2 linked regions of the Homo sapiens genome follow. The protein of the gene in region 1 purifies or fractionates together with the protein of each later gene. This does not show direct contact. Each region holds a gene or a part of one and is shown on either strand. Other genes may lie near its edges.

The links.
Region 2: the proteins of HDHD3 (region 1) and MTHFD2L purify together in Homo sapiens (affinity purification with mass spectrometry; 2 studies listed by BioGRID and IntAct, with this or other methods). This does not show direct contact.

The regions. Positions count from the first base shown.
Region 1 is NC_000009.12:113,369,779-113,385,907, forward strand, and holds HDHD3 (haloacid dehalogenase-like hydrolase domain-containing protein 3), read right to left. Parts: upstream 7,209-16,129; 5' UTR 6,951-7,208; intron 6,823-6,950; exon of another isoform or gene 5,790-6,822; 5' UTR 5,675-5,789; intron 4,752-5,674; 5' UTR 4,577-4,751; coding exon 3,821-4,576; 3' UTR 3,644-3,820; downstream 1-3,643. Other genes in the region: BSPRY (B box and SPRY domain-containing protein), read left to right, coding at 1-364.
Region 2 is NC_000004.12:74,162,281-74,177,961, reverse strand, and holds part of MTHFD2L (bifunctional methylenetetrahydrofolate dehydrogenase/cyclohydrolase 2, mitochondrial), read right to left. Parts: intron 6,185-15,681; exon of another isoform or gene 4,478-6,184; coding exon of another isoform or gene 4,413-4,477; intron 3,457-4,412; coding exon 3,272-3,456; intron 2,682-3,271; coding exon 2,559-2,681; intron 1-2,558. UniProt on the Homo sapiens protein: Bifunctional mitochondrial folate-interconverting enzyme that has both NAD/NADP-dependent methylenetetrahydrofolate dehydrogenase and methenyltetrahydrofolate cyclohydrolase activities.

The sequences.
Region 1 (16,129 bases):
GAATGGGCTCCATGCCTGGATGGTGAATGTCCAGAACAGTTGTGCCTATAAGGTGGGCGTGGCTTCAGGCCACCTGCCCCGCAAGGGTTCTGGCAGTGACTGCCGTCTGGGCCACAATGCCTTCTCCTGGGTCTTCTCTCGCTATGATCAGGAGTTTCGTTTCTCACACAATGGGCAGCACGAGCCCCTGGGGCTGCTGCGGGGCCCAGCCCAGCTGGGTGTAGTGCTGGACTTGCAGGTTCAGGAGCTGCTCTTCTATGAGCCAGCCTCCGGCACAGTGCTCTGTGCCCATCATGTGTCCTTCCCGGGGCCCCTCTTCCCAGTCTTTGCTGTGGCCGATCAGACCATTTCTATCGTCCGCTGACCTCTGGCCACAGGAAGCCAGGTCCACCGCCCACCACCCTTTCAGGCCATGTTTCTACTCAGTGTGCTTTTCCCAAATGATGTGTGTGGTGTTTCTAAGAGAAACAGGGCCCATAACCAGTGGGCAGCTTTAGGAGGGATGGGGATCTGTTTCAGATCTAGGCATAACCTGTAAATCACAGGTGTCCAAACTTTTGGCTTCCCTGGGCCACATTTGAAGAAGAATTTTCTTGGGCCACATAAAATACACTAACGATAGCTGATGAGCTAAAAAAAAAAAAAAAGTCTGTGTATAATTTTTGTGATATCTGCCACCACAGATAAGCAAAAAAGTCCTTGCATTCAAAGGGTTGGAGATTGCTGCTTTGAGTGCTGGGTACCTGTGGGGAACCTACTACTCCCTGGGCCTTAGTCTCCCAAATCCACCATGCATCTGCCCCTCTGAGGGTGTCTTCACTTTGTCTCTGGCATCTAGCATGGTGCCTGGTGCATAGTGAGCATGCAATAAATATTTGGCAGGTGAGTGGATGGATAGATGGATAGGTGAATGTAGGTGGACAGGTGACTGGGTGGATGTTGTGGTCTCTGGAGAAGCACTGCCATTCAGCCTCCTGCTCCAGCTGTTCACATGCAGAAATGCTCTCTTCACAGGCAGAGAAGCCTGTGGCTAAAGTTTCCACATCCCATTAACTCAGTGCTTTTGTCTTTTTCATGACATGGCACATAGAGAAAATATTTTTTTCTAGCACACAAGAGCAACCTGAAAGGCTGCTCCTGGCCAGAGGACTCTGTCCCGGGGGACCGTGTCCTCCCCCATGTCCTGCCTAGGCCCTCAGAGGACCAGGGGATCATGTCTCCAGGTAACCCGACTGTAGCCCCTGCTGGCTGAGCTCCAGCCTGTGCCCACTGATAATAGCAGGGACGGCCTTTTCTCTTAGAGCAGCTGATAAGTTTCCCTACCTGATGGCCCCCTCTGACATAAACTGCACACCTGGGGTGATGGCTTAAAGCCAGAAAGAGCTGAGGGAGTTAAGAGGGCCAACCTTAGGGCACGTGGGCATTATTAAAGGTCTTAAAAGCATTGAAGATTTATTCCATGTTCTTTGTTGATAATTGGGTGTATACTGTACGCTGGCCTGTCTTCATACCCTTATTGCATTCTCGGAAATAAGTGGGTCGCAGCTCAGTGTAGCGGAAAGAGCCTGGAGACATTACCAAGACCCAAGGCAAGTCCCTTTATGTTTGTCTCCATGAGGAGTTCACCCTAGAACAGTGGTCTTCAAACTTTTGTCCAGGAACTCTCTTCAAAAGTAATCTTACCTACAACTTTAGGCTCCTGCGTCCAAAGAAGATGAAAGGCAGAGCCCTCCCCACTTTCTTTGGGAGCTGCAGAGCAGTTTGAAAACCACTGTTTATTAATTTTTTTTTTGAGACAGAGTCTCAAAGGGATGCTGAGGCAGGTGGATCACCTGAGGTCAGGAGTTTGAGACCAGCCTGGCCAATGTGGTGAAACCCCATCTCTACTAAAAATACAAAAAATTAGCTGGGCATAATGGTGCACACCTGTGATCTCAGCCACTCGGGATACTGAGGCAGGAGAATTGCTTGAACCTGGGAGGCGGAGGTTGCAGTGAGCCGAGATCGCAACACTGCACTCTAGCCTGGGCAACAGAGCGAGACTCCATCTCAAAAAAAAAAAAAACAACGAAATTACTGTTGCCTGGCCTTGGTGCCAGTCCCAAGGAAAACAGACCAAAAGGGGTTTGGTCAAGTCCCAAAGAGATCTTCCCTGCCTTTGCCTGGGCACAGCCCCTGCTCAAAAATCTGGGTCAAAGCCAAGGCTTTTCTTGGCACCTGAAGGCCCCCATGCCATTTTCTCCCAATCCACCAACCCAGCTCCTCACAGCAGCCTTCATTCCACAGTTCATCGGCCTGCTGCAGCAATGTCCTCCTCATCCCCCTGCTCATCTAAAGCCACCCCCAATGCCACTACTGAATTCAGCATCCATTCTAGAGCCCTCCCTAGCTGCTGGCACCAGAACACACTGCCAGCCTGTGTTTTTAATGTGTGGTATCCTCTGGCACTGGGCAAGGAACACAGATGTCCAGCAAATACCAAGTAGAACGGTGTGGGAAGGTGGGGAGGCAGGAGAACTTTTTGTTGTTTTGTTTTTAGAGACAGGGTTTCACTCTGTTGCCCAGGCTGAAGTGCAGTGGCACGTAGCTTACTGTAACAGAACTTGTGGGCTCAAGCGATCCTCCTGCCTCAGTCTTCCGAGTGGCTGGGATTAAATGTGTGTGCCAGCACACCAGGCTAGTTTTTACATTTTTTGAAGAGATGGGGTTTCACCATGTTGCCCAGGCTAGTCTCGAACTCTGGGCTCAAGTGATCCTCCTGCCTCAGCCTCCTAAAGTGAAAAAAGGAATTGAAAAACCCAACCTACTTCAACCTCCAGTTCTTCCCCCCTCCCTCCAAACCTATTCCCTACACTGCAGTCCTTGTTCCCCATACTTTCCTACCTCCACACTGGTCTCTGCGACTGGGGTGCCCTTTGAGATTGATATTCTTTAGGACACCTCCCCTATTCTCCCAGAATCTCCACTGTACCACGTTTCACATGACAAGCATCCTCATCTACTTACAACCTAGTGGTCAAGCCAATGGGCTTTGGATTCAGATGTGCCTAAATGGAATCCTGGTGTCTTTGCATGCTAGCTGTGACCTCGGGCAGGCTGCTTAACCTCTGAATTTCAGTTTCCTCATTTGTAAAGTTGTGGAGGGGGTCAAACCACCTAGGCCCAACGAGGTAGCTTTGAGGGTTATATGTGCATGGAGGTAACTCAGCACCTTACCTAACACGGGGCAGGCATATGTCAACAGGATTTCTTCTCATGACTGTCATGGGGTTCCTTGTTTAAATTCTCCCCTTCATACTATGTGGTGCTAATGGACAGTGTCCCTACAGAATGGCTTAGCATCCTGCTTTTCAAACTAAGCACTGACCCCAGGCTTCCAGAGGGTATTTTCAGAAGCTGAAAGAGAGACCTTAGCACCTCTGCTTCAACTCCAGCAGTTTTTCAGGGTCTGTTTTTAGTTTTGCATAATGGGGTTTCAGATCGCCCATAACTAAAGGACTCTGCTGCTAAAACCAAGTTTGAAAGTGCCTGGTTTTGAAGCTAGTGGGGCCCTCTGTGAATCCTTTGGATGTGAAGTCGACTCCTAGTGGAAAAGGGACACAGGTGTGAATGAGAATGAGGGAGGGCAGAGGCTAGGAGCTGGTTAGTGGGGGAAGGGTGAGAGCTCAGCACTCACTGCTTTATTATCACAGTAGGTGACAAAGGCCGCAGGGAGAGGGGGAAAGGTCCAGAGCTGTGGAGAAAGAAGGGGCTCCCTGTCTCCAGGGTTTGTTTAAGGTTTTCTCCATGGCCTAGGGCCCAGCCACTTCCCTCACTGGCCTCAAAGCCCTGGAGTTGAGCCCTCTAGGCAGTCAAGGGCAGGCAGGAGATGGGCCAGAGAGGGGAGGATGTGTTCTTTAGGTACAGAATCCCTGACCACGGGGTCCAGTGCCTGTGGGCCAACCACCAGGAAGCTGTGCATGCCCACAGCCCGAGGCCCCTGGTAATCGCAGAGGTAATTATCCCCAACATGGGCTGCCACTACTGGTTCCATATGAGCAAGCCGCAAGGCCTCCTGGAAAATGCGGGGGTCCGGCTTGGGCCAGCCAGCAGCCTCGGAGGTCAGCACAAAGTCGAAGTGTTCACGCAGGCCAAGGCCCCCCAGGATGCCCTCTAGCCGTCGGTCAAAGTTGGAGATCACTGCCAGTCTCAGACCCCGTGTGCGGCACTCCCTCAGGGTGTCCTCAGCCCCATCCAACACCTGCCAGGTGCAGGGGTGGCTGAAGTCTTTATAAAGCTGTTCAGCGATGGGGGCTACAGCCTGAGCATCCTGGACACCCGCCAGGTGGAAGGTCTGCAGGACCACATCCAGCCACCACTGGCGGGAGGTTAGGCCGTGGCTCAGGCCGTAGTTGGGGAAGCTGTGGCTCTGAGCCCTGTATGCCTGCCTGAAGCCTTGTTCCAGGGCTGAGGGCTCCACCTCCAGCCCATGGGCCCGGGCCTTGGTGGCATAGGCCTCCCCTAAGGGGTGGCGGAGCCTGAGCAGCGTGTCCTTCACATCCCACGTCAGCAGTCGTATCTGCAGCCGGTGTGCCATGGAGGAGGCCAAGTCCACCCCAGTTCTGCCTCAGGTCCCACGGTGGGTCCCAGGGGAAGCTGAGCTGGATAAGACCACCTCTGCGCAACCTAACAATCACCTCTTTCCAGGCCTTGTGGGTCAGATTTGCTGGCTAACATGAAGCACTTGGGAAATGTCTTCACAGCACAAGATCCTAGAATGAAAAATAGCAGGTAAGGTGGAAGCTCAGGCCCTGACATCAGACAGACTGGGTTCAAATTCTGGTGCTGCCAATGGTGTGACCCTAGGAAAGTCACTCTGAATCCACAACAAATTTCTGAGCACCTTTTTGAGCTAGCTGCTAGCATATGGGATAGATTTCCAGCCCTTAGGGCATTTACAGGCACTGAAGAACAGGGATACGGATATTAGGCAAAGAACTATACAAACACTTAAATATAATGAAGTCAATAGATACCGTAAGGATCTAAATCCAGGGACCGCATCTAGTCTGTGTAGTTAGGGAATGTCATAAGCAAGTGAAGTTTCTTTTTATTTATTTTTTTTAATTTTTTTGTGAGACAGGGTCTCTCTCTGTCTCCCAGGCTGGAGTGCATGGCTCATTGCAGCCTCGATCTCCCAGGCTCAGTCAATCCTCCTGCTTTAGCCTCCCTAGTAGCTGGGGCTACAGGCACGTGCCACCATGCCCGGCTAATTTTTGAACTTTTTGTAGAGATGTGGGGTGGTGGGGCGGGGTGGGTCTCACTATGTTGCCCAGGCTGCTCTCCAACCCCTGGACTCAAGTGATCCCCCAGCCTTGGCCACCCAAAGTACTGGGATTACAGGCATGAGCCATCACTCCCAGCCCTGCAAGTCAAGTTTCAATGGAGATCAGAAGAATGAATGTGCAAGAAGCAGAGGTAGGTGAGTGCTCCCGTCAGTGGAAATAGCAAGTGCAAAGGCCCTGAGGCAGGGCAAGTAGACAGAGGCCAGCTGTCTGGCACACAGGACACAATTATTATGATTGCTATTATCATTATTAGGGATGTCAAAGACAGAAGGGGCCTTGCAGAGCATATGAACGATATCTTGGCTGCTGGGCAGAGTAGACTGAGCCAGAAAGGGGCAGGTACTTACCCAAGGTCACAGTGAGTCAGTGGCACAGCCAGGACCAGAACCCAAACTTCCAGACTCTCTGGCCAGTTCTTCCACTGTACCATGAGATATATTTGGATTTTAAAAATTGGTGAACCTGTACAGCACAGGAGAAAAGACAGGACACAGCAGGCTGTCTGTCTCTAGCCCTCTCTGAACCCCAACTTTTCCATCTTTACTGGAGGTAATAACACTGGCCTAGGAGGAGAGCTGATGAGAGAACTGACTCAAGGCACAAGAAACAAGTGACTCAGCCTGCTATCCAGAGGCTGGTGCAGCTTCTTTCCCCAGACAGAGCTGATCCCAGACAAGGCCGTCCCCTTGAAACCTGAGGGGCCAGAGTTCAAAGTACGGCTAAGTTGATACTTAGGGAAGGGCGTCACTGGTAAATCTGGGGGAGCCTTGGAGGAAGTTTGTCCAGGAAATGAATTAAGGAGACTCATCCAAAGATCCTCTCATTTTGCAGGTGGGTAGACAGAGACCCAGTGAGGGGCAGTAATTTACCCCCAAATCACACAGGGAGTCACATTGGCACAGCTAAGACTAGAGCAGAGGGCTCTGGCTCCTGACCCACGGCTTTTTTTTTTTTTTTTTTTTTTTTTTGAGGCGGAGTTTCGTTCTTGTTGCCCAGGCTGAAGTGCAATGGCGCGATCTCGGCTCACTGCAACCTCCGCCTCCCAGGTTCAAGCGATTCTCCTGCCTCAGCCTCCCAAGTAGCTGGGATTACAGGCATGCGCCACCATCCCCGGCTCCTTTTTTTTTTGTATTTTTAGTAGAGACGGGGTTTCTCCATGTTGGCCAGGCTGGTCTCGAACTCCCGACCTCAGCCTCCCAAAGTGTTAGGATTACAGGCGTGAGCCACTATACCCGGCCGGCTTTTTTTCTTTTTTTTTTTTTTTGAGACAGAGTCTCACTCTGTCACCCAGGTGTACAGTGGTGCGATCTCGGCTCACTGCAACTTCCGCCTCCCGGATTCAAGCGATTCTCCTTCCTTAGCCTCCAGAGTAGCTGGGACTACAGGCGCGCGCCACCACACCTGGCTAATTTTTGTATTTTTAGTGGAGACGGGGTTTCAACTATGTTAGCCAGGCTGGTCTCGAACTCCCGAACTCGTGATCCTCCCCCGCCCCACCCCGCCCCCCGGCCTCCCAAAGTGCTGGGATTACGGTAAAGGCGTGAGCCACCGCGCCCGGCAGGGCTTTTTCGATTTCTAAAACCGCGGGTTTGGGGCTCTGCGCTGCAGGCACGAACTGCTCACCTTTTCTCCCCACCTCCAGGGCTCGGGAAAGGCGAAGTCCAGGAGCCCGGACCTGACGCAGAATGTCTATAGCTGCCGTCGGCAGCGTGAGCTGGGGCGGCGGTCCTAGGGGCCTTGGCCGCGGCCGACCCCTTGGGTCCCCTTCTCAGCTGTAGGGCGTCCACGGCTCCGGGCCGGTTCCTGGGCCCAGGACCCACCTGACTCACAAGGAAGCAGATTGAAAACGCAGCCGCAAGGCCCGCGAGCTCGGGCGGAGGTGCGCAAGCGCCGGGCGGTGGGGCGGGGATCGCGCGGGCCGCCCCTCCCTACCATCCCGACCCGCCTCTGTCCCCGCCCCGTCCCCGCCCTTATCCCCCTCACCTTCGCCCTCTCCCGCCCCATCTCCCGTCGCCCTCGCCGTCCCCTCTCCCTCCTTCGTCTCACTGTGCACCTCTCTGCGCCCCTGTCACCCGCCTTCACTGCGCGCCTCCGTTACCCTGCACCATCTACGCCCCTTATTCCCTCCCCGCACCCTCTGAGGTTCCCCAGCCCGCACCCTTCCGCTCCGCAGCCCCCGTTACCAGCACCTTCTCCGCCCTGTCTGCGCACCCCCTGCCCGCCACACCGCCGCTCCTCACCGCTGTCTCCGCTCCCCATCCCCAACCCCGGCTCCTGGCCTCCTTTGGATCGGGAAACCCCCGAGAAGTACCCAGGTTGAGTGGGAGGAGGGGAGTTGGGACCCAGCCTGGCTTGCTTAGTGTTGTGTGAACCTGGGCAAGGCCCAGCCCCTCTCTGGTCTCAGGGTCCCCAGTTGGTATTGGAGGGAATTGCTTTCAGTTGGAAACTTGTTAAATCCAAGATAACTTGGTGAGGGTAGAGTCCGCTGCAGTAACCTGCTTTTTTATTCTTTCTCTTTTTTTTTTTTTGAGACGGAGTCTCCCTCTGTCGCTCAGGCTGGAGTGCAGTGGCGCGATAGCCCACTGCAACCCCCGCCTCCCAGTTTCTTGCGATTCTCCTGCCTCAGACTCCCCAGTAGCTGGGATTACAGGTGTGTGCCACCACACCCAACTAATTTTTGTATTTTTAGTAGAGACAGGGTTTCGCCGTGTTGGCCTGGCTAGTCTTGAACTCCTGACCTCAGGTGATCCGCCCACCTCAGCCTCCCAAAGTGCTGGGATTACAGGCATGAGCCACCGCACCTGGCCTCTTTTTGTTTTTAAGAACCCTGTGGTACCATCCTGGCTAACACGGTGAAACCCTGTCTCTGCTAAAAATACAAAAAATTAGCCGGGCATGGTGGCAGGTGCCTGTAGTCCCAGCTACTCGGGAGGCTGAGGCAGGAGAATGGCATGAACCCGGGAGGCGGAGCTTACAGTGAGCCAAGATTCTGCCACTGCACAATATTTGCCTGGGCAAAGAGCGAGACTGTGTCCCCAAAAAAAAAAAAAAAAAAAAAGATCCCTGTGGTAAGAGCCTGGAATCCTAACCACTAGACCACCAGGGAGCTTTTTTATTCTTTTGAAGAATAAAAAAAGAGTTTTATCTTTGTTTGCAAAAGTAATGTATGTTGGCTGGGCGCGGTGGCTCACGCCTGTAATGCCAGCACTTTGGGAGGCTGAGGTGGGTGGATCACCTGAGGTCAGGAGTTCAAGACTAGCCTGGCCAACACGGTGAAACCCCGTCTCTACTAAAAATACAAAATTAGGCGAGGTGGTTCATGCCTGTATTCCCAGCTACTTGGGAGGCTGAGGAAGGAGAATCGCTTGAACCGGGGAGGTGGAGGTTGCAGTGAGCCAAGATCAGGCTACTGTATTCCAGCCTGGGTAACAAGAGCAAAACTCCATCTCAAAAAAATAAAAAAATAAAAAAATAATAAATAAATAAGGTATGCATGTAATGCATGTTAGTCTCAAAAAACTAAAAAATACAAACATATGAGAGTTGGCCATGCAGAGGGGAAGGATCTGAGTGATGGTTAAGGGACCCCCTGATGCAAAGGCCTCCAGGCAAGAAAGTTTTTTTTCCGAACCAAAGAGACACTGAGGAACTATAGGAATGTTGCTAGCCAGGGGGTTTGGGCCAAAGAGGCTGGGGAGGTACCGGAGGGGAAGCTTTGAGATACTTCTGTGCCTGTGCTCTGTTCCTCTTTAGTCTCATCACCTTGCACTATGACCTTAGGCAAGACAGGTCATAAGACAGCCCCCACCACCCAGGCCCCTTTGAGAGGGTCTTGCCGCATACCCTGGAGGAAGGAACACTGCACAGAGAGGCCAAGAAGAATCTACACAGATGGGTCTTGGTGGGTTTCTCTATTCAGTCTATTAGCGTTTTGTGCAATCCTGTTTCTACATGTGAAGGGGTGGCCTGCCCCTCCACACCTGTGGGTATTTCTCATCAGGTGGGACGAGAGACTGAGAAAAGAAATAAGACACCGAGACAAAGTATGGAGAAAGAACAGTGGGCCCAGGAGACCGGCGCTCAGCATACGGAGGACCTGCTCTGGCACTGGTCTCTGAGTTCCCTCAGTATTTATTGATTACTATTTTCACTATCTCAGCAAGAAGAATGCGATAGGAGAGCGGGCTGATAGTGAGGAGAAGGTCAGCAAGAAAACATGTGAGCAAAGGAATCTGAGTCACAAATAAGTTCAAGGGAAGGTACTATGCCTGGATGTGCACACAGGCCAGATTTATGCTTCTCTCCACCCAAACATCTCAGTGGAGAAAAGAATAACAAAGCAGCATTGCTGCCAACATGTCTCGCCTCCCGCCACGGCGCGGTTTTTCTCCTGTCTCAGAATTGAACAAATGTATAATCGGGTTTTATACCGAGACGTTCAGTTTCAGGGGCAGGCAGGAGACAGAGGCCTTCCTCTTATCTCAACTTCAAGAGGCCTTCCTCTTTTACTAATCCTCCTCAGCACAGACCCCTCGCGGGTGTCGGGCTGGGGGACGGTCAGGTCTTTCCCATCCCACGAGGCCATATCTCAGGCTGTCACATGGGGAGAAACCTTGGACAATACCAGGCTTTCCAGGGCAGAGGTCCCTGCGGCTTTCCGCAGTGTATTGTGCCCCTGGTTTATCGAGAATGGAGAATGGCGATGACTTTTACCAAGCATACTGCCTGTAAACATTTTGTTAACAAGGCACATCCTGCACAGCCCTAGATCCCTTAAACCTTGATTCCATACAACACATGTTTCTGTGAGCTCAAGGTTGGGGCAAAGTTACAGATTAACAGCATCTCAGGGCAAAGCAATTGTTCAGGGTACAGGTCAAAATGGAGTTTCTTATGTCTCCCTTTTCTACATGGACACAATAACAGTCTGATCTCTCTTTTCCCTACATACACGGCCATGTACACTTCGTTGAACCTAAGCATAAAAATGGACAGTTTCCTCTGTATCTGTGGCTCTTCATTCTGAAGGCTCCCATGTCACAAAAAAACTATGATCAAATAAATGTATATGCTTTTTCTCCTATTAAAAAAAATACAGACATATTCAGGGTTAGGCATAGTGGCTCATGCCTGAAATCCTAGCACTTTGGAAGGCTAAGGTGGAAGGATCCCTTGAGCTCAGGGGTATGAGACCAGCCTAGGAAACAAAGTGAGACCCCATCTTGTTAAAAAATAATAACAGGCTGGGTGTGGTGGCTCACGTCTGTAATTGCAGCACTTTAGGAGGCCGAGACCAGTGGATTACTTGAGGTCAGGAGTTTGAGACCAGCCTGACCAACATGGTGAAACCCCATCTCTACTAAAAATACAAAAATTAGTGGGGCATGGTGGCAGGTGCCTGTAATCCCAGCTACTCGGGAGGCTGAGGCACAAGAATTGTTTGAACCTGGGAGGCAGAGGTTGTAGTGAGCTGACATCACAGCATTGCACTCCAGCCTGGGTGACAGAGCAAGACTCTGTCTCAAAAAATAATAATAATAATGCAAAATACAAACGTGTACAAAATAAAAAGCCAGCCCCCCACCAACACCCAACCTCATTCATTGACCACCTAACATCTGTGGGCTCTGTGTCCCCTGTCCTTCTCTGAGGATTCAGTGGGAAACAAGGTGGTTCCTGCCTGCATGGGGCATGGGAGGGGCAGACAACCATTGAGTAGATAAATAAACAAAGTGATTTCAGAGAGAGAAGTGGAAGCGGTAAAAACAATCATTTTATGAACAGTGACAGGGTATCTCTTTGGATGAGGTGGTCAAGGAAGGAACAAAGATCTGAATGGTGAGAAGGAGGTTGTCAGGTTAAGATCAAGGAAAGTACTCCAGGTGAGGAACCGGAAAGAAGGGTGTGGGGCCTCAGCCTGCTTACTGAACAAGGGCAGTAGCCTTGGGGCAGGGAGAGAAGGGCTTCCCCACCCCATCTCACTCCCCAGGGATTGCTGAGGTGACAGTTTTGGTTATGCTATGACACAGTTTTCTAGCAGCACACAAACATGTATCTAATTTTCTTTCTTTCCTCTCTTTCTTTCTTTCTCTTCCTCCTTCCCTCCTTTCTTTCTTTTTTTTTCATTCTTTCTCTCTGTCTCCCTCCCTCTTTTCTCTCTCTCCTTTCTTTCTCTCCCTCCCTCCCTCTTCTCTCTCTCTCTTTCTCTCTCTCTCTCCTTCCTTCCTTTCTCCCTCCCTCCTCCCTTCCCTTCCCTTTCTTTCTTTCCTTTCTTCTTCCCTCCCTCCCTTCCTCCCTTCCTTCCTCCCTCCCTCCCTCCCTCTCTCTCTCCCTCCCTCTCTCTCTGTCTCTTTCTCTCTTTCTTCCATTTTTGAGACGGAGTTTCACTCTTGTTGCCCAGGCTGGAGTGCAATGGTGCCATCTCAGCTCACTGCAACCTCCACCTCCTGGGTTCCAGCGATTCTTCTGCCTCAGCCTCCCGAGTAGCTGGGATTACAGGTGCCTGCCACCACGCCCAGATAATTTGTGTATTTTAGTAGAGACAGGATTTCATCATGTTGGCCAGGCTGGTCTTGAACTCCTGACCTCAGGTGATCCACCTGCCTCAGCCTCCCGAAGTGCTGGGATTACAGGCATGAGCCACCGAGCCTGGCCCTTTTTTTTTTTTTTTTTTTTTGTGAGACAGAGTCTTACTCTGTCACCCAGGCTGGAGTGCAGTGATGCGATCTGGGGTCACTGCAACCTCTGCCTTCCAGGTTCAAGCAATTCTCCTGCCTCAGCCTCCTGAGTAGCTGGGATTACAGGTGTGCGCCACTGTGCCCGGGTAATTTTTTGTATTTTTAGTAGAGACGAGGTTTCGCCGTGTAGCCAGACTGGTCTAGAACTCCTGACCTCAACTGATCCACCCACCTTGGCCTCCCAAAGTGCCGGGATTATAGGCATGAGCCACTGTGCCTGGCCTAATTTTCTTCCTTTCAACTCTTAAAAACAAAAAAACAAAACTTTCTCCTATGTTCCAAGTTGGTCTGTTCACTGGGTTCAGGCCTGGGAAGAAACACAAAGTGCAGAGTCACAGACTTTGGACCTGCAAGAGAGAGCCCGACTCACTTGCAAAACTGGTTTTGTGTTATAAGCATGAAGCAGAAGTGGGGGTGGGAAGGGCAACTGGGAGACCAGAGGTTCAACTGCATTTCACAGAATCCAAGAATGTCTGATACTGTCTACTTTTCAGGGTCACCGAAAACCTAACCCCTTAGGTTCTGATCCCAGCTCTGCCATCTGTCTGTCTGTGAGCTCTCCATTCAATTGTTTTTCTCTCTGAGCCTCAGTATCCCAATATGCAAAATGTGAATTTTCCCAAAGTGAACATACCCATGCAACCAGCACCCAGACCAAGAAAAAGAACAATTTCCAGAACCCTCCACAGCCTGTCCACTTCCAGTTACTTACTACCCAAAAGGGTAACTATCTTGACTTCAAACTGCATAGTTAAACTTTATTTGTTTTTGAACTGTATATAAACAGAATAATATAGCATGTATTTTTTATGCCTTGCTTCTTTTGCTCAAAATTGTGTTTGATACATCTGTGTTGCTATGTGTAGTTGTAGTTAATCCATTCTCACACCTTTAATATTCTATTATATAAATAGACCACATTTTACTGTTGATGAACATTTGGGTTATCTCCAATTTTGTTTATTACACTTCTTTTTTCTTTTTTTTGGAGACAGAGTCTCGCTCTGTTGCCTAGGTTGGAGTGCAGTGGCGCCATCTTGGCTCACTGCAACCTCCCACCTCCCAGGTTCAAGCAATTCTCCTGCCTCAGCCTCTCAAGTAGCTGGGATCACAGGTGCCTGCCACCACGCCCGGATAATTTGTGTATTTTAGTAGAGATGGGATTTCATCATGTTGGCCAGGCTGGTCTTGAACTCCTAAGCTCAGGTGATCCACCCACCTCAGCCTCCCAAAGTGCTGAGATTACAGGCATGAGCCACCATGCCCGGCCTTATTACATATATTATAAAATGCTGCTATGAATGCTGTTGAACATGTGTCTTATGAACATAGGTAATGTTGGGTAAATACTGTTGGGTAATACCTAGGTGTGGAATCACAGGGTCATAAGGTATGCATATGTTCAGCTTTGGTAAATAGGGCCAGACATTTCTTTTTCTTTTTTTTTTTTTTTTGCAGACAGGATCTCCCTCTGTAGCCCAGGCCGGAGTGCAGGCCAAACATGGCTCACTGCAGCATCCACCTCCTGGACTCAGGCAATCCTCCTGCCTCAGCCTCCCAAGTAGCGGGAACCACAGACATGTGTCACCACGCCCCGCTAATTTTATTTTTGTTTTTATTTTTTAGTATAGACATGGTCTCACTATGTTGCCCAGGCTGGAGCTAGACATTTTGTTTTCTTTCTTTCTTTCTTTCTTTCTTTTTTTTTTGTTCTTGTGGAGCCAGGCATTTTGAAAGGGTGTACCAGTCATATCTGAGAGTTCCAGTTGTTCTGCATTCTCAACACTTGACATTGTCCCATTGTCCTTTTAGTATTAGGCATTTTCTTTTTCGAGTCTCCCTCTGTTGCCCAGGCTGGAACGCAGTGGCACGATCTCAGCTAACTACAACCTCCGCCTTCTGGGTTCAAGCAATTCTCCTGCCTCAACCTCCCGAGTAGCTGGGATTACAAGCGCACACCACCACACCTGACTATTTTTGTGTGTGTGTGTTTTTAGTAGAGACGGGGTTTCACCATGTTGGCCAGGCTGGTCTCAAACTCCTGACCTCGTGATCCGCCCACCTCGGCCTCCCAACGTGCTGGGATTACAGGCATGAGCCACCGCACCCAGCCAGTATTAGGCATTTTTGTGGATGTATTGTGGTATCTCATTGCGGTTTTAACTTGAATTTTCTCCACTAATGAAGATAACACCTTTTCATATATGTATTGGTTAAGTTTTCATTTTTTATTTACATAGCCACACATGAATATATCCTTGTTACATATAATACATGAATAGAAATAATACATATAAAGCTAAAGTCCCTCTAAAACGAATCCCTTCACTAGTTTTATTTTTAATTGAAAAACATTTTTTTTGTAGCAATGGGGTCGTGCTTTGTTGCCCAGGCTGGTCTTGAACTCCTGGTTTCAAGCAATCCTGCCACCTCGGCCTCCTAAAGTGCTGGGATTACAGGTGTGAGCCACCATGCCCAGCCCCTTCCCGAGTTTTGAGCACTGGGCTTGGAGTTAAGAGACCTGAATTCCAGCCTTGGTCTGCCACTGACTAGATTGCTGTCTAATTTTGGACAGGTCACCTCTCTGGGTCTGTCTCCCCATCTATAAAATCAGAGTGTTTAACTAGATAGTCTCTAAGGATCTTTTTTCTTTAATATTCTGACCACTGTTTCTGTGATCCCAAGAACCTCCATTAGGTAAAAATGGCCATTTGCCTTACTATCCATTCTCTCCATCTTCCTTAGTAACTGAACTCCCGAGTTTTAGTTGAGCATATGGCTGGCCCACTAGACTATTTCCAGCCTCCCTTACAACTGGGCATGACCATGTGACTAATTTGAGACAAGGGTGTGTAGACAGAAATGATGTGTGCAACTTTTGGGTCATGACTTTATAAAGAAGGGTCATGCCCTCCATTTGCTCTTCTCTTCCTGCTGGCTGGAAAGAGGACCTGATGATGGGAACTGGCCCAGCCATTTTTTTGTTTTGTTTTGGTTTTGAGATAGGGTCTCACGCTGTTTCCCATGCTAGAGTGCAGGGGCGCAATCACCACTCACTGCATCCTTGACCTCCTGGGCTCGCTCCTGCCTCAGCCTCCTGAGTAACTGGGACTACAGGCATGCACGACCACACCCAGATAATTCTGTATTTTTTGTACAGACGTGGTTTCCTCATGTTGCCTAAGCTAGTCTCAAACTCCTGGACTTGAGTGATCCACCCATCTCAGCCTCCCAAAGTGTTGGGATTACAGGTGTGAGCCACTGTGCCCAGCACCAGCCATCTTTGTTCATGAGATGGAGGCCAAGATGTGTTGATGATGACAGAACAAGGCAAGAGCTGAGACCCCTCACAACATATTGCTGACATATCAGCCCTGGATTGCTTAGAAGTAAATTTTCATCTCAAGCTATCATTATTTTGGCTTTTGTTATATCCACTGAACCTGAATCCTGATTAATACAGAGTGACTGGAGAATGACTTTTTTTTTTTTTTTTTTTTGAGACAGAGTCTGACTCTCTGTTGCCCAGGATGGGGTGCAGTGGCATGATCTCGGCTCACTGCAACCTCTGCGTCCTGTGTTCTAGTGATTCCTCTGCCTCAGCCTCCCAAGCAGGTGGGACTACAGGCGCCTGCCACCATGCCCGGCTAATTTTTTGTAGTTTTAGTCTAGATGGGGTTTTGCCACGTTGGCCAGGCTGGTCTTGAACTCCTGACCTCAAGTGATCCGCCTGCCTTGGTCTCCCAAAGTGCTGGGATTACAGGTGTGAGCCACCACGCCCAGCTCCAAGAGTGACTTTAGATTGGGTGTTGGGTCAGGTTTCTCAGAGGAAGGGATGCTTTGAGCTGAGATCTTAACAAGAGAGACAGCCATATAGATTTAGGGGAAAAGCATTCCAAGCCAAGGAGGCCACTGGTGCAAAAGCTCAGTCCAAGACAGCGTTCTGTGTAATGAGGCCTACCTGGTCAATTGTGGCGCCATCTCCCATCCCATTGTTTACAGTGACTGAGCCAAGAGTGGACCATGTGGCCTGAACAGGCCCAATCAGAGACCTCCAGAGATTTG
Region 2 (15,681 bases), on another chromosome or scaffold:
TTCCATGTTATAGCAAATGACAGGATTTCATTCTTTTAAAAAGTTGATTCTTATTTCATAGTGTATATATACAACAACATTTACTTTATCCATTCAGCCACTGATAGACACTAAAGTTGATTATGTATCTTAAAGTAATGCTGCAATGTGCAGCATTACTTTAGGAGTGCAGATATCTCTTTGACATACTGATATCATGACATTTGGATATATATACAGAAATGGAATTTTTTGATCATACGGTATTCTATTTTTAATTTTTTGAGGAACTGTCATGCTGTTTTCTAAAATGACTGTACCAATTTACATTCTAAACAGCAGTGAGCAAGGGTTCCTTTTCTCTACATCCTTGACACTTACCTCATTTTCTTGATAACAGCCATCCTAACAGGTGTGAGGTGATATCTCATTGTGGTTTTAATTTGCCTTTCCCTGATAATTAGTGAAGTTTATCATTTTCATATACCTGTTGGCCATTTGTATGTCTTCTCTTAAGAAATGTCTTTTCAGGTCATTTTGTGTAGAATGGACATTTTAAGAATTAATGTTGTGACATGTTTATACAGTTATTGAAATGTCGTAGAAATGCCAAGTAGAGAAAATTTCAAAAACTGCAAACTATAAGAAGATTGCTTGATAAATACAGTACCAACAGGAGATTCATTGTGAGTGAGTCAAACAATTGAGAAACACTGTTAAAATTTTTTGGACAGATTTGTGATGTTAATAAACTCCTGATCTTCTCTAGATCTCATTTTCCTATGATATAAGAGTGCTGCACGTGTTGAATTTTTTTTCTAGTTTTAAAGGTAAGTGATACTATCACTATACTAACTTTAACATCATTAATGTAAGCATTATCTGCCAGAGCATTTTTCTCAGGGGGAAAACTGATAGCTTCTGAGATTCTTATTAACTTGATGATTTTTGTCAGTGCAGCTATATTGGAGGAAAAGAATTAGAAGTATGAATTTTTGATATAATGTAAACAGCACAAAAGCTATAACATATGCTAAGTAAGATATTACATTATATTGCTGGATAAAGAAAAATATTAATACCACATAAAGATCCCATATAATAGCATTATATAGCTTTACTTTTTGCACATCACGATTGTTAATCAAAGCTTACAGAACTCAAAACTACAAAGCTACTGTAACCTATACTATACCTGCAGTCCTCATTTTGCGCAGTTTAAATATGCACAAATTTCAGAACAACAATTCAGTTAAATAATACTAGTCCTCCAATAACACATTTCAAATTTCATAGTAATTATACAAGAGCTGCTAGCTCTTTAGTCCACAGATCACTACAGAAATAACAGATGAGATGATGATCAGTGACCAGTCATAGCACTTCTTTCAAATGATTGGTCACTGCACATTTACAATCATCAAACATCGATGGCAAAGTGTTGTTTTCTCCATGTTTCCCAGAGATAAACCCACATGATATTTTACAAAAGTGGATAACAGACAGAGGGGATTAGCCTATAAAAGTGAAAGTATAGCAAAGAAACAAAATGTGATAATGCTGGGATGGAAACTGGATGTAAGTAGAAGATCTGAACAACAGCAAACAAAGACAAGAGAAACCTAGGCCCGCATGAAGCGAAGGTAAGTCTTATGTTGAAAAAGCCTGATAAACATAAAAAACAAAGTCATTTCAATAGGAATCTAATTTAATGTAAATGGAGTTGTAGGAGAAATAGCTGACCATAGAATGCTGACACTGAATCCTTTGGAGAGACGTAGTTACGCAGCCAGAGGAACTTAATGAGGGTGAATCCATCACACAAACGAGGAAAGTGATCGTAATAAAAAAGACAACAACATCTCAGATGAAGTGACGCCAATGTGAAACTTCATACTGAAATTCCTTTAAATGTTAAGGAACTCTCAGAGAAATTTCACAACATTGAAAGTAGAATAGACAAAATACTGGGAGCTAATCTAAACTTTGAAAGGAATATAACAGTTCAATTCACCAAGACATAGAAAAGATGCCCATTCCATATGATAAGTTATAGAATTAGACAGAAGACAAACACTGCTCCAACTACTTTTGACGAGCTTTTGCAAAGATATCATACACTTTCTCAATGTTTCTAATGTTTTAAATTAGAGTGTACTAAAAAACATTAGCTTAGTTTTACTAATTATTCATTTCCCTATACATTTATGAACCACAGTAGGAGAGTTTTCAATGCTTGGATAAGAAGTTTTAAAGGCCACAGAAAAATTGTTATTTTTACCTTTGATTATTAAGATCACATTACCTGGTTTCATCTTACATCGTCATTTTTAGAGACCCATACTACTGTGCAAAGCAAGGAGTGTATGTATTGCCAATGCTTATATTTCACTTTCAAGGATTTTGTCCATGTAAGCACAAATCATTCAGAAATCACTATTACACCTATTACTAGTAAAATAGCTAGTCTCCTTCTGAATGTATTTTATAAATTACTTGCAGTATCATAATATGATGTTGAAAGATGCCCTTTGTTTCACTTTTAACAAAATCAGATAAATAAGAGGAGCATTATGTACCTGGTAGTGGTAACTGAACTAATATACCGCTGACTCTTGGGTCCATATTCAATTGATCAGTTACGTCCAAAAGTTCTTCCTGAGAAACATCCTTAGGTTTTAGAATGAGCTCACTACAAATACCTAGAAGAAAAACAGGTAGAGAAGGTCACTTGACTAACTGAATATGGTTTTTCATCAATAGTGTCTGACACAGTGTGGGACTGTTCCTACTGCCGTGAAAGGTTCTGATGTTCCATGCATCATCAGGAAGGATTTCTCCAATAGTACAGGTGTTTCCTCTTGATCCACATGTATTCTTTGGCCTGGAATGCCAGGTGACAATTTGTACTTGTTTGAGATAAGCTACTGTTAGTAGATTTGAAGAGAATAAAAATATCACTACCATGCAACTATTAGGCCAAGTTTAACAGAGTGAACAAGCCAGGTTTATTATTTGATTAAAGCAAATATAATGAAAGCAGGCCTTTTAGATGCAAACTATCCTTTGCATATCTTGCCATAGAATATAAAACACACTGAATTAACCCTATAAGAAATTTGAAGAAAAATCATATGAAATTAACATAAGCTTTGGTAACTGAATAATCTTTAATAATAATACATGCAATTCAAATGGCACTTATTTGATAATTATCATTCATAATTATCACAATTTGAAGTAAAAACAGAAAACATATTTAGTAGTAATTACAACTAAAACACACACCCACCTACAGCAGAGGCAGCTCTTATCTTATTCCTGACATATGTATGGCTTGCTGGGTTATCTCCCACTAAAATTATACTGAGGTGAGGTCTTCTGTTTCCAAGGGAAACCCATGATTCCACACCTCGCTGTATTTCTTTCTGGATATGCTTGGCCATTTCGGTTCCTGATATAATAATGGCTTCATGTCTGTGGAAAGCAAAACAATAAATACTAAAAAGAAAATAAGAAACACTCAACTGCACAAATTTAAGGTACAAAACTCAATAAAACCACCATGATTCTCCAAGCACCCAAAATTTGATTTTTTTTTCAATTATAGTGACACCTACTCTTCAGGTTCATAAATATTTTATAATTTTGTGAAGGATTCCAACTCTGTTATTTAGTTCTACAGTATAATCTATCTGCTATAAAATGAATGTGTATGTCTCTTCAAAATTCCTATGTTGAAATCCTAACCCCAAATGTTATGGTATTAGGAGGTAGGTCCTTTGGGTGGTGATTACACCATGAGGATAGAGCCCTCATAAGTGGTATTAGTGTCCTTTTAAGAAATTCCAGAGATCTCCCTTGTGCCTTCTGCCATGTGAGGACATAGCACGAAGACAGCTATCTATTAACCAAAAAGCAGGCCCACACCAGACACTGAACCTTCTGGTGTACTGACCTTGGACTTCCCAGTCTACAAAACTATAAGAAATTCATTTGTTTTTGTATAAGCCAACCAGTGTACAGTATTCTGTTATAGCAGCTCAAATAGACTAAGATGCTAACGACAGTGTACATTTCTTCACAACTTTCACATACATATATAAAACATATATATTATATACACATATGCATACATATGTATATACATATACACACATTTATGTATTCATATAAATTATCAAACCACATACTCAAGATCTGGACTATAATATTGCCTAAATTTAAAGTTCTGCTATTTTTTCTAAAGAGGCAGATCAATCAGCACAGCCTAGTTAAAACTGGCAACCATCTTGAAGACTGGACTCCACTATGTATACACGTAGCCCCACAATCTTGTGACCCTAAGGCGAAATCAGTTCGTTTTTGGTTAGCATATCCAGCACAAGACTCTGAAGTCATGAGCTTCATACTACACAACTCTTTTAACTTACTCAAAGAAAAATGTTATTCCATGGCCCCAGGCATGGCCCCGGACAACAGCTGTGAGTCTTGCCATGCTTGTCACTGATTATGGTGGGGATCAGGTCAGTAAACCGATAGTTTAGTTCCTTCCCAATGCAATGGCATCATTTCTAATGGAGTAAGTTTCCACAGAAGATTACTTCCTGGCAGTTTATAAGTATTTCAGAAGGTAAGAAGTGCCATAATTTGATAGATGATATAAACTATCTCTGGAAAGGCACAAAGAAATACTTTCTAGAAAGGCTTTTCTGCTCTCCATGACCTCAAACTTGAAAGTGGTGAATTACATTGCTCTTACTGTGTGTTTATTTTTTTAAAGGTATCTGATAAAGTAGAAGGTGGTCCCTTCTTCCTTCTGCCCCTGTCCTTTCATTATTGAATGGCCCGGTAAAAACATGATTACTACAAAAAACATCAAATGTAGGTAAATAAATATTATGAAAAGGAGGAAAAGGGAAAGAGTAAGAAGCAGAAGAGAAAGAGGAGGAGGAAAGGAAGCCCTTATAAACCTTAATTCTTTGTGGTATCTGTACACTTTTAATTTTCTAATGAGGGCGGGTGCTATAAATATCCGACAACACACAAAATGCAAACTTTGTGCTCCTTCCAAATAAGTCAACTGCTCTCTCTAGCAGGTTTGTGGACGTATAGGTAGAACTTGATCGAAAATACACCATTATAGCATGGCACCAGTCTTCCACTGCATTCATCTCAGTTCATGCAATTTTGATGTAAACAATGTTCTGCTAAGAAGCAATTCCAAGCGTGGTCTATGGATACACACATCAAAAACTGCCTGAAATTGCAGATTCCCAGACCCCACAATCCACATCTACAATTCAGAATTCCTGGGGGCAGGGGAAAAACCTGGAAATCTGCATGTCTAATAATTTCCTACATGTGATTCTTGTGTATGACCATGTTTGAAAACCACTTTAGTTTACCATAAAAGTGTATTTTAATAACAATCATAATTTATGAGTAAATAACTGAGCAAATTGGTTAGACAATACAATCACAACTAGACATTCTAAGTAAACTCTACTTTTGATTCTAATTTTGTCTACTCTTCATTAAAATTTTAATAGCTTTCAAGACATGAAATGTCATGATGAATTCAATATAATAATCTTGTTCTGCTGTCTTATTTCTGTAAAAGATTTATTCAGTATAATTGTCATATAATAAACTGGACATATTTAACATGTACAAGTTTAAGTTTTAATATATGTATATACCTGAGAAACCATCACTATAGTCAAGAAAATGAACATGTCTATCATTCCCAAAACTTTCCAGGTGCACCTTTAAAATTTTGCCATTCCACCTGTCTCTGCCAGATTCCACTCCTCAATTCACCATTCCAGGCAACCATTGACCTCTTTTGTTCAGTATATATTGGTTTGTATTATGAATAATTTTATAAAAATTGAATCAAATACTACATACTCTTTTTTGGCCAGCTATTTCCACTCAGCATAATTATTTTTTAATTGATTCACATAGTTGCATGTTTGAATGGTTCATTTCTTTTTTATTGCTGAGTAGTATTACATTGTATGGATATACCAATATTTGTTTATCCATTCGATTGTAATTAATGGATATTCGGGTTCTTTCCAGTTTTTGATCATGACAAATACAGCTGTTACAAACATTTTATAACACATATGCTTTAATATATTTTGTACACATATGCTTTAAAATATTTTTTTTGTGGGGGACAGGGTCTCCATCACCCAGGCTGCAGTTCAGTGGCAAGATCTCGGCTCACTACAACCTCCGCCTCCTGGGTTCAAATGATTCTGATGCCTCAGCCTCCAGAGTAGCTGGAATTACAGACATATGCCACCATGCCTGACTAATTTTTGTATATTTAGTAGAGACGGGGTTTCGCTATGTTGGCCAGGCTGGTCTCGAACTCCTGGCTGCAAGTGATCTGCCCCTCTTGGCCTCCCAAAATGCTGGGACTACAGGTGTGAGCCACCACTCCTGGCCGCTTTAATTTCTTTTGAGCAAATATCTCAAAGGGGAATGGCTAGGTCACATCGTAAGTGTATGTTTAAATACGTTAAAAACTGTTACGTTACAAAAACACTGTACCACTTTGCAACTTTGCATTCCTTCAAACACTATATGAGTTCTGGTTGCTCCATATACTTGTCATCACTTCAGATGGTCAGGTTTTAAAACTGTTGACATTTTAGTGGACATATGGTGGTATGTCACTGTGCTTTAAATTTGCATTCCCTTAACGAATACTGATGTTGAACATCTTTTCATATGCTTATTTGCCATCTGTGATCTTCTTTAGTGAATTAAATAATTAAGTCTTTTGCCCATTGTTTAGTAGGTTGTTTCCTATTTTGAATTTTTTTAATTTTATTATTATTATACTTTAAGTTTTAGGGTACATGTGCACAATGTGCAGGTTTATTACATATGTATACATGTGCCATGTTGGTGTGCTCCACCCATTAACTTGTCATTTAGCATTAGGTATATCTCCTAATGCTATCCCTCCCCCCTCCCCCCACCCCACAACAGTCCCCGAAGTGTGATGTTCCCCTTCCTGTGTGCATGTGTTCTTATTGTTCAATTCCCACCTATGAGTGAGAACATGCAGTGTTTGGTTTTTTGTCCTTGCGATAGTTTGCTGAGAATGATGGTTTCCAGTTTCATCCATGTCCCTACAAAGGACATGAACTCATCATTTTTTATGGCTGCATAGTAGCCCATGGTGTATATGTGCTACATTTTCTTAATCCAGTCTTTCGTTGTTGGACATTTGGGTTTTTTTAAAGTTCTTTGTGTATCCTAGATTCATGTCCTTTATCAGATATGGGGTTTGAAATATTGTCTCCCAGTCTGTGCTTTGCCTTTTTATTCTCATGTTTTTAGAACAGTTCTTAATTTTAATGTACTCCAATTTATTATTTTTTCCTTTTATGGACCATGCTTTTAGTGTTGTATAAAAGAAATCTTTGCCTAATTCAAGGTCACAAAGGTTTTCTCCAGCGTTTTCTTCTAGATGTTTTATGGGCCTAAGTTATACATTCAGTTTATGATTTATGTCTATTTTTAGTTTGGTGAGAATTTGTATGAGGCTACTGCCAAGTGTTTTTTATGTCTATTGAGATGATCATATGTTTTTCTCGAGTGTTAGTCTGTTAATATGGTAACTGATCAATTTTCAAATGTTAAATCAAACTTGCATTCCTGGGATACATCCCAGTTGGTTATTATGTATCTATCCTTTCCAGACTATCATGGATTTCATCTGAAATTTTGTTAAAATTGTTGCATCTACATGCATAAGAGGTGTTTGTAGTTTTCTTTTCTTATAATGTTATCATGTAGCTTTGATACCAGGATGATGCTAGCTTCATAGAATGAGTTAGGAAGAATTCTATCCTCTTCAAATTTCCGGAAGAGTGTGTAAAGAATTGGCATTTTTTTCTCGCTTAAATGTTTGGTAGGATTCACCCATGAAGCTATCTGATTCTGGGGTTTTCTTTCTGGGAAGGTTTAAACCTACAAACTTAAATTCCTTAATATAGAGGGCAATTCAGGTTATCTAATATTTCTTGAGTGATTTTTGTAGCTTGTGCTTTGTACCTTCCAATACTTTGTATGTAATTATAAGCAAATCAAGTTAAAATAAAATAAAACTTTTGAGGTTTTTATTTTTCAAAGTAAAGTAACAAACTTTTTTCACTGTTTCCTATGAATTTCTGGTAAGGATATTTTATGAATTCATTTAAGTAGCCTTTTGGCACTAAGATAACAAGGATCTTTTATATTAGCAAATACTAAGAACTGCAGATACAGCAACAAATTCCAGCACAACTCATTTATAGGTAGTAGCAAATAAAACTTTCCATAAATCAATTTGTGTCAGCAATATTTTCTTGGGGTAGAACACTATTATAGAAGCAGATTCATCTGTTAAAAAAACTAGTAATCACCTAACACAGTAAGGAATATACATTCTATTTTAAAATATAAAAACATCTGAACTCTGTCTTGCATTTTATAGCATGTGAGTAGTGATGCTACTGCTGACACATTATTGATTCACTCACATTAAACAAAATAATTTGTTCACAGGCCACTGTGAAGCTGGCAATCACTGAGTATAATCTAGGCTAATTATGTCCTAGACAGTACAAATCTGCGTGACCTGGAGATTGTCAGAGAAGACCAATAGCATAAACTGATTCCCAGACTCCAAAGAGACAACCTGTATACAGATTAAACTTAACTGTACCGTGCATACTCAAGTCTAAGACTGTTCAGGGTTTACTTTAAATTATAGCACTGAGGTGCTAAGTCAGCTCGCTAACTAATTACAGCAGACATGATACAGCCTGGCTAGCTGGTGTTTATGGGTAAATTAGGAGTTAGGTCTCTGAGCATTTTCAGTAGCAACTGGCCCCTCCAACTGACTCCATCAGTCACCGTAGAGACTCAGCAAGCCTAGCTCTGTAGGAGTCACTGTAAGAGGCAAAATGAAGCAACCTCAAATTAATGCAGGTCCAATGAGAGAGTGCCTGTATTGGTCCATGTGCTGGAAGAACTAGTCAACTCACACATTCTCATTACTTTAGTGCATAAACAAATTAGATTTTTCAACATGAAAATTCTTGAAAAGCTAAAAAGGTTAAACATCAGCAACAATTCAAATGTTCAGCCCCTGAATAATACATCTCCTAAAATTTCTCTCCGGCTTGTCTTGATCTCCTCTAATCCATTTTCCATACTGCAGCCAGAGTGATTGTTTTCTAATTTAATTACAGCACCTCCCTGGTTAAAACTCCCCACCACATGCTCATTGTTTATTCACTTAACAAATATATATTGAAAGTCTCCTATGTGCTGAAAACTATTTTGGGCACTGGGAATATAAATAATAGGGCACAAAACAATTACCTACTTTTATGGAAACTATATTCTAGTTGAAGAAGATATAAGCAAATTGAAAAACAACAAGTATTTAATATGTGTAACATGAGGCAGAGAAAGGACTTATCTGAGGGCCAGAGTTATTTTACATAGGTGGGTTAAGATATCACTTCTCTGATAAATCAGGTGACACGTGGGCAGAAATGAATGAAATGAGTCATGTAGATTTCTGGAAGAAAAGCATTCTAGGCCAAGGGAAGGGAAGAACAAGTATGGAGGCCTTTAGCAAGGAGCATACCTGAAATCTTTGAGGAATAGCAAGAGGCCAATGGTTGCAGTGGAAAGAACAAGTGAACTAGGGTAAGACATGAAGTCAGAGAAGGAATGGGACATCAGATTATATAAGGCCCTGCAGGCCTTTGAAAGGATGTTGGCTTTTACTGTGAGACACGAAGCCATTTAGAGATTTTGACGTGACTTTCACTTTTAAAATAACTGGTGAAAATATGAAGGATAGACTCTATGAGATCAAGGGGAGAAGTGGAGACTCCAGCTAAGAAGCTAGTGTAGTATAACAAACAAGGGATCATGGGGAGTTAGGCAAAGGGGTAGCCATGGAGGTGCTAAGTAGTCTGATTCTGAATCTATTTTGAGAGTGGAACCCTTGGGAGTTACTGAGATTGGGTGTAGGATATGAAAAAAAGAAAAACAGAAGGCAAACATGACTCTAACATTTCTGACCTGAGAAATTGGGGGAAAAAGTTAACTAAAATCCCAATCCCCTATGGGTTACACACTTCTGCATGAGCTACTTTAGCCTCACTGTTAAAGAACACTGTGCTTAGTGAGTCGCGCACTACACACCAGTCATATTTTAATTCATGAACTGCACCATGTTCTCTCCAGATCTTCAGATATAATATTCCCTCTGCCTGAAACACTCTTCCTTCCCTTTCTCACCTCTCCAACCACTTTGCCAAGTCTGTCCCACACATTGCTCAAGTCTCAGCTTATAAAACACTCTTGTGATGTTTTCCCAACCCTGTACCCTGGGAATCTGCTGTGAGCTCCCACAGTACCTGGTTTTTACCCTTTTGTAGTATTTTAAATCACTGATATTGTCTAGTTGTCTACCTGTGTTCTCTGGATAGGCAGCCTGTAGCTCTCCATTTCTTTATGTCAATTATTGTTAATTTTGTTCTTTTTGTGGTGCCAGGTTTCCCTAATGGTTCACAAGCCTGTGGCCTTTCATTGCTGTCTATCGCTTGAAGAAGTAGGCGCCTATTCCAGTCTTTCTAAACTGGCTTCAGCAGGGAAAGCCCTTCACCAGTCAGTGGATCTAGAGATTCTTGATGGGCCATCCGGCATGGCCCATGGGTGGGCTTGCTGCTAAAGCCCTTGGATTAGTTGGCAGGTGATGCCTAGGTCAGCAGGTGGTGGGCCTAATGCTTCAACTCACAGGGGGCTAATCCGGTGCATGGGTCCACTGGGGTGGGCTGTCAACTGGGTATATAGGAGTAGTCCTGGAGCCTTGGTCTGCAAATACAGACCTGAAGCCTAGGTTCATAGGGGCCATCCTGGCACTGGGGTAGGTCTTGAGCCTGAGTCCATGGGGACCAGCCTGGCATTGGAATGGGTCTGGTCCCAAGTCTGTGGGGACTAGGCTTGCCCAGGGTCCTCTGGAATGGCCCTGGTACCTAGATCTGCAGGGGAAGACCTGGTACCTAGAACCATGGGGTTGGGTGCAGAGTTTGGGTCCCTGGGGATAGGCTTGGACCTGAATTAATGGAAGCTGACCTGGTACTGGGGCAGGCTTACAGTGTGGGTCCATGAGTTTCTACCTGATGCCTAAGTCTGCAGAGGCTCAGCTGGAATCTTTGGATGCTGCCCTGGCATTAGTGCAGGCCTAGAGCCTGGGTCTGCAAGGACTGGCCTACAAGCTGTGTCTGTGGGGGCTGGCCTGGCACTGGGATGGGCAACACTTGTTGCATTTTTTTCAAAAGTTGTTGGTCATTATTAATCAACATATTCAACAAACAGACCAAATGGGAGTAGGGACACCTTCAGATTTAAAGTTTTTAGTGAATTGTAATCAGTGAAACCAAAGCTTACAAACAGAAACCTTATCTCTTCAAAAGGAAGGGAAGAAGTAAACTAATTTAAAAAATCATAGCTCAAACAATGCACAAGTAATTTTAATTTCTGTCCTTACAAGAGAAGACACAGAGACACATAAAAAGGGAAGTGAAGACAGAGAGGGAAGACAACCATTTAACAACAGAGGCAAAGACTGGAGTTATGCAGCTGCAAACTCCTTAGGAACACCAAGGACTGCTGGCAATAACCAGAAGCTAGTCGACAGAGTGTGGGCCTACAGATACTTTGATTTCAGACTTCCAGCCTCCTTCCACTGTTTCCAGTGTGAAAACAGATTTCTGCTGTTTCAAGCTAGCTAGTTTGTGGAACTTTGTATACAGCAGAATTAGTAAATAAATACATCTATAATAGCAATTTTAAATAGTTCAATGTCTGAGAATAATCTTCTGATGGAACTCATATTTTTTGTTGAATAAAATTTCCTGGAATAAATTACCATTTTGTAAAACATTGGAATACAATTGAGAAAAACTTTAATTTTCCCCTATCTAAATATGGTAAACTATTTTTAAAATCATACACAAAAACAACTTATTTCTTTTATCTAAATATTTGTCAAAGAAAAGTACTTTGAAAAGATACACCAACATAGCACCTGTGAAAATATTTAGGCTAAAATATCTTCCCATTTCAATGTGCAAAATGTAGAATTAAGACTGTTCCATTTAGCAGTTTATGTGGTGTTTCAGCATCTATAGAGACAGTACCTTTAAAACTAAAATAACCATTGTCTAAAGCAAAGATTCTATTTGCAACTGTTAAGAAAATTGCAGAAAATTTAATTTTAAAATTAAGCACAAGGGCCGGGCCTAGTGGCTCACGCCTGTAATTCCAGCACTTTGAGGGGCCGAGGCGGGTGGATCACGAGGTCAGGAGTTCAAGACCAGCCTGACCAATATGGTGAAACCCCGTCTCTACTAAAAATAGAAAAATTAGCTGGGCGTGGTGGCATGCACCTGTAGTCCCAGCTACTCGGGAGGTTGAGGCAGGAGAATCACTTGAACCCAGGAGGCGGAGGTTGCAGTGAGCCAAGATCACACCATTGCACTCAGCCTGGGTGACAGAGAAAGACTCTGTCTCAAAAAAAATAAACAAAGCATAAGATCTTATTAACTTTTTTCAGAAAATTATCAGGATCAAGGTGTTAAAAGATACAGCTAAGAAACTGATTCAAGCATGTGAATATGCACCAGGAATAATTGTTCATGCTGAATGTTCATGTAATATAAATTTTTATTTTAACACATAAGGATATAAATTATCTTTTAAAATGTTAATTTTGAAAATGGTCTGAAACTATTCTATAAGTTCACTAATATATTTGTAAGCCAATAGATATTCCAAATATATAATTTTCATTACATTCGTGCCCCTTTTTACTCTAAAAAATGTGCTAGTTTGGCCAAAAAAATTACATAGTGACCTTGCCATTAATGCATATCAAAAATAAAATCCATTTGACCCCTTAGATATTGTTTACATGATGTGCCCTGTCATTACTTGCTCAGGTGGTTTCCCACAAAGGCAGAAATGACCTTCCCCTAAAGGCAAGAAAAGGTGCCCTCCCTTCCAAAAGCCCAGCCTACTGCTGGGCTAGCCACGAAATGTGGCTTCATCAGGAGGCAAAAATTAAAGAAGGGAGGTGGTGGCTAGTGAGTAGCAGGGCAGCACTATGTAGTACAAACTACTCACCTGAAATTAGAAGTCCTGAGCATCAGAGCTCTGGGTTACCATTAGTAGCAATAATAAAGTTAGGCAAGTCACTTAGCTTCTCTCAACGGCATGCAATTTCTTCATCTATATAATGGGAATACTCTCTTGTTGACCTTACATTACATAAGAGGATTTGGCTAAAAGTTCATGGGCTGGTTTGCAAAAGTGGCTCTTTCTCTTAGTTTCTGCTAAATTACAGATGGAGACATATTTCGATAACCAGAAACATTATGAGAGCAGAAAGTCTTCAGCACTTAGTGCTGTTTCCATGGGCTTGTTTACTTGTACTTCCAGAAAATAAACTAACCACCTTATCTACGCTTATTAGAATCAAATGATTTATTTAATAAACTAGAGCAAAATAACAAAGGGGGAGGATTATTTCTATGTATCAAAATACTCTTCCACAAAAAAGTAGCTTACCAACAAATAAAACCTAGTCAAGATCAAGAGTTTATTTAATTCGTATACTTGGCAAATCCATATCTTAGTTTCAATCTCATCTTTATTCACGACTTCAACTAGAGCTGCAATGAACCATTTTATCTCTATAATGTTGAAAAAACCTGGCCAGGCATGGTGGCTCACGCCTGTAATCCCAGCACTTTGGGAGGCTGAGGCGGGCGGATCACGAAGTCAGGAGATCAAGACGCATCCTGGCTAACACGGTGAAACCCCGTCCCTACTAAAAATACAAAAAATTAGCCGGGCGTGGTGGCGGGCGCCTGTAGTCCCAGCTACTTGGGAGACTGAGGCAGGAGAATGGCATGAACCCGGGAGGCAGAGTTTGCAGTGAGCCAAGATCGTGCTATTGCACTCCAGCCTGGGTGACAGAGCAAGACTCTGCCTCAAACAAAAAACAAAACAAACAAACAAAAAAAGACGAAAAATCCTAATAGAATGATTAACAATTCCAAGCTCTACCCAGGCCCTAACATACAGTTTAATTGCTTTATATCTTAGGGCATATCTTCGATGTCTTGAGTTTGTACAATAGAAATGAAACCCCCCAAAAACAGGGCAAAATTCCATAGGGAATAAAACCAATCACCAGTATAGGGAGTCTTTTGAAGTGTGTTATTAAAATAAATGAATACCTGCAAGTGTTAAGTTTATGACCTCTTTAAAAAAATTTGTTTCATACCCCAAGTACCCTATTCACATCTTGAAGTAATTTTACTAGAAATTACATCTGCAAATCAATAAAAAGTAAAATACCTTTTCATTATATATGACTCTTCTTCGTATCCAGTTTTTTAACTAGTTAACTTTCTGACTCTGTACTAAACAATATCCATTGTTTTCAAACTAACTTTGTCAGAAAGAACCTTAGATGCTAAGCTTTGTGCCACAAAAGCTCTTGGCCTATCTGCTGAAACCTGTGGACTCTTTCTCAGAACAATCCTTTTAAACATTCAATATAAAATACAGATTACAAGGAAAACCAGTTTTACTGAAATATTATCAAATGCTTTTTTTTAAAAGTATTAAATAACAGGATCTAGTGGTAGGTCTAACTACCATAACAAAATAGTGATGTGCAGATGATGTTTTGTGGTATCTGCCTCAACTTTGTGATACTGAAATATCTGTAAATTATATTAGCAAGTCACATGTACTGATGATATTATGTATTTGTTGCCAACACTAACAATGGAAAAAAAAAAATGCTCAATTTATCAGAAGTTAGTAACCTCCAATCCAAGTTTATGGATCCTCTGAATTCTATCCATAAGGTCCCAGGTTAAGAACATCTCAAACTGAGGGAATCTAACAAAATAATTTTAAAATTTACATGCAAAATTAGCTTTCTAGATTCACAAAAGTTGTATGAGATTTAATATTAATAAATGTTTCAAAAAGAAGAAAAAGTAAGATAAGTCAATAATTATAAACTGCTTGTAGAGAAGAACACCGGAAAGATGATGTGGGTTCAAGCCTTGTCTTCACCATGTATTTACTGTGTCAACTTGACAAGTTTAATTTCTTTAAGCCTCAATTTCTCAATCTGTTAACTGGGAATAGTAATAGTGTCTATCTACTTCCTTTAGTTGTTGTGAGGATCGAAGGACATACTGTATATGCAAAATCTCAGCAAAGTGCTTACCACTGACTAAGAGCTCCTTAGATATTAAGAAAATTGTATTTTTCAACAATACAACTGAATTCCTTAAAAGCATGATGGCATTCATTGCAGTTCCAGTTAATCACAAACAGCAAAAAAAAAAAAAAAAAAAAGTGGGGAGAGAACATCTGTTGTAAACTATACACACACCCTCACTTTAGAATTATGAATCTTTAGATCTTTAGATAGTCTTTGGATCTAGGAACACTCTAATGAGCCTAATTATAGAAACCTACATAGCGTTCAGATGATGCAGTGAACAAACCTGGTTGGTATGACATTGACAAGGACATGACCTCAATCTGAGAGTAAATTATTACATATTTTCCAAGAACTAG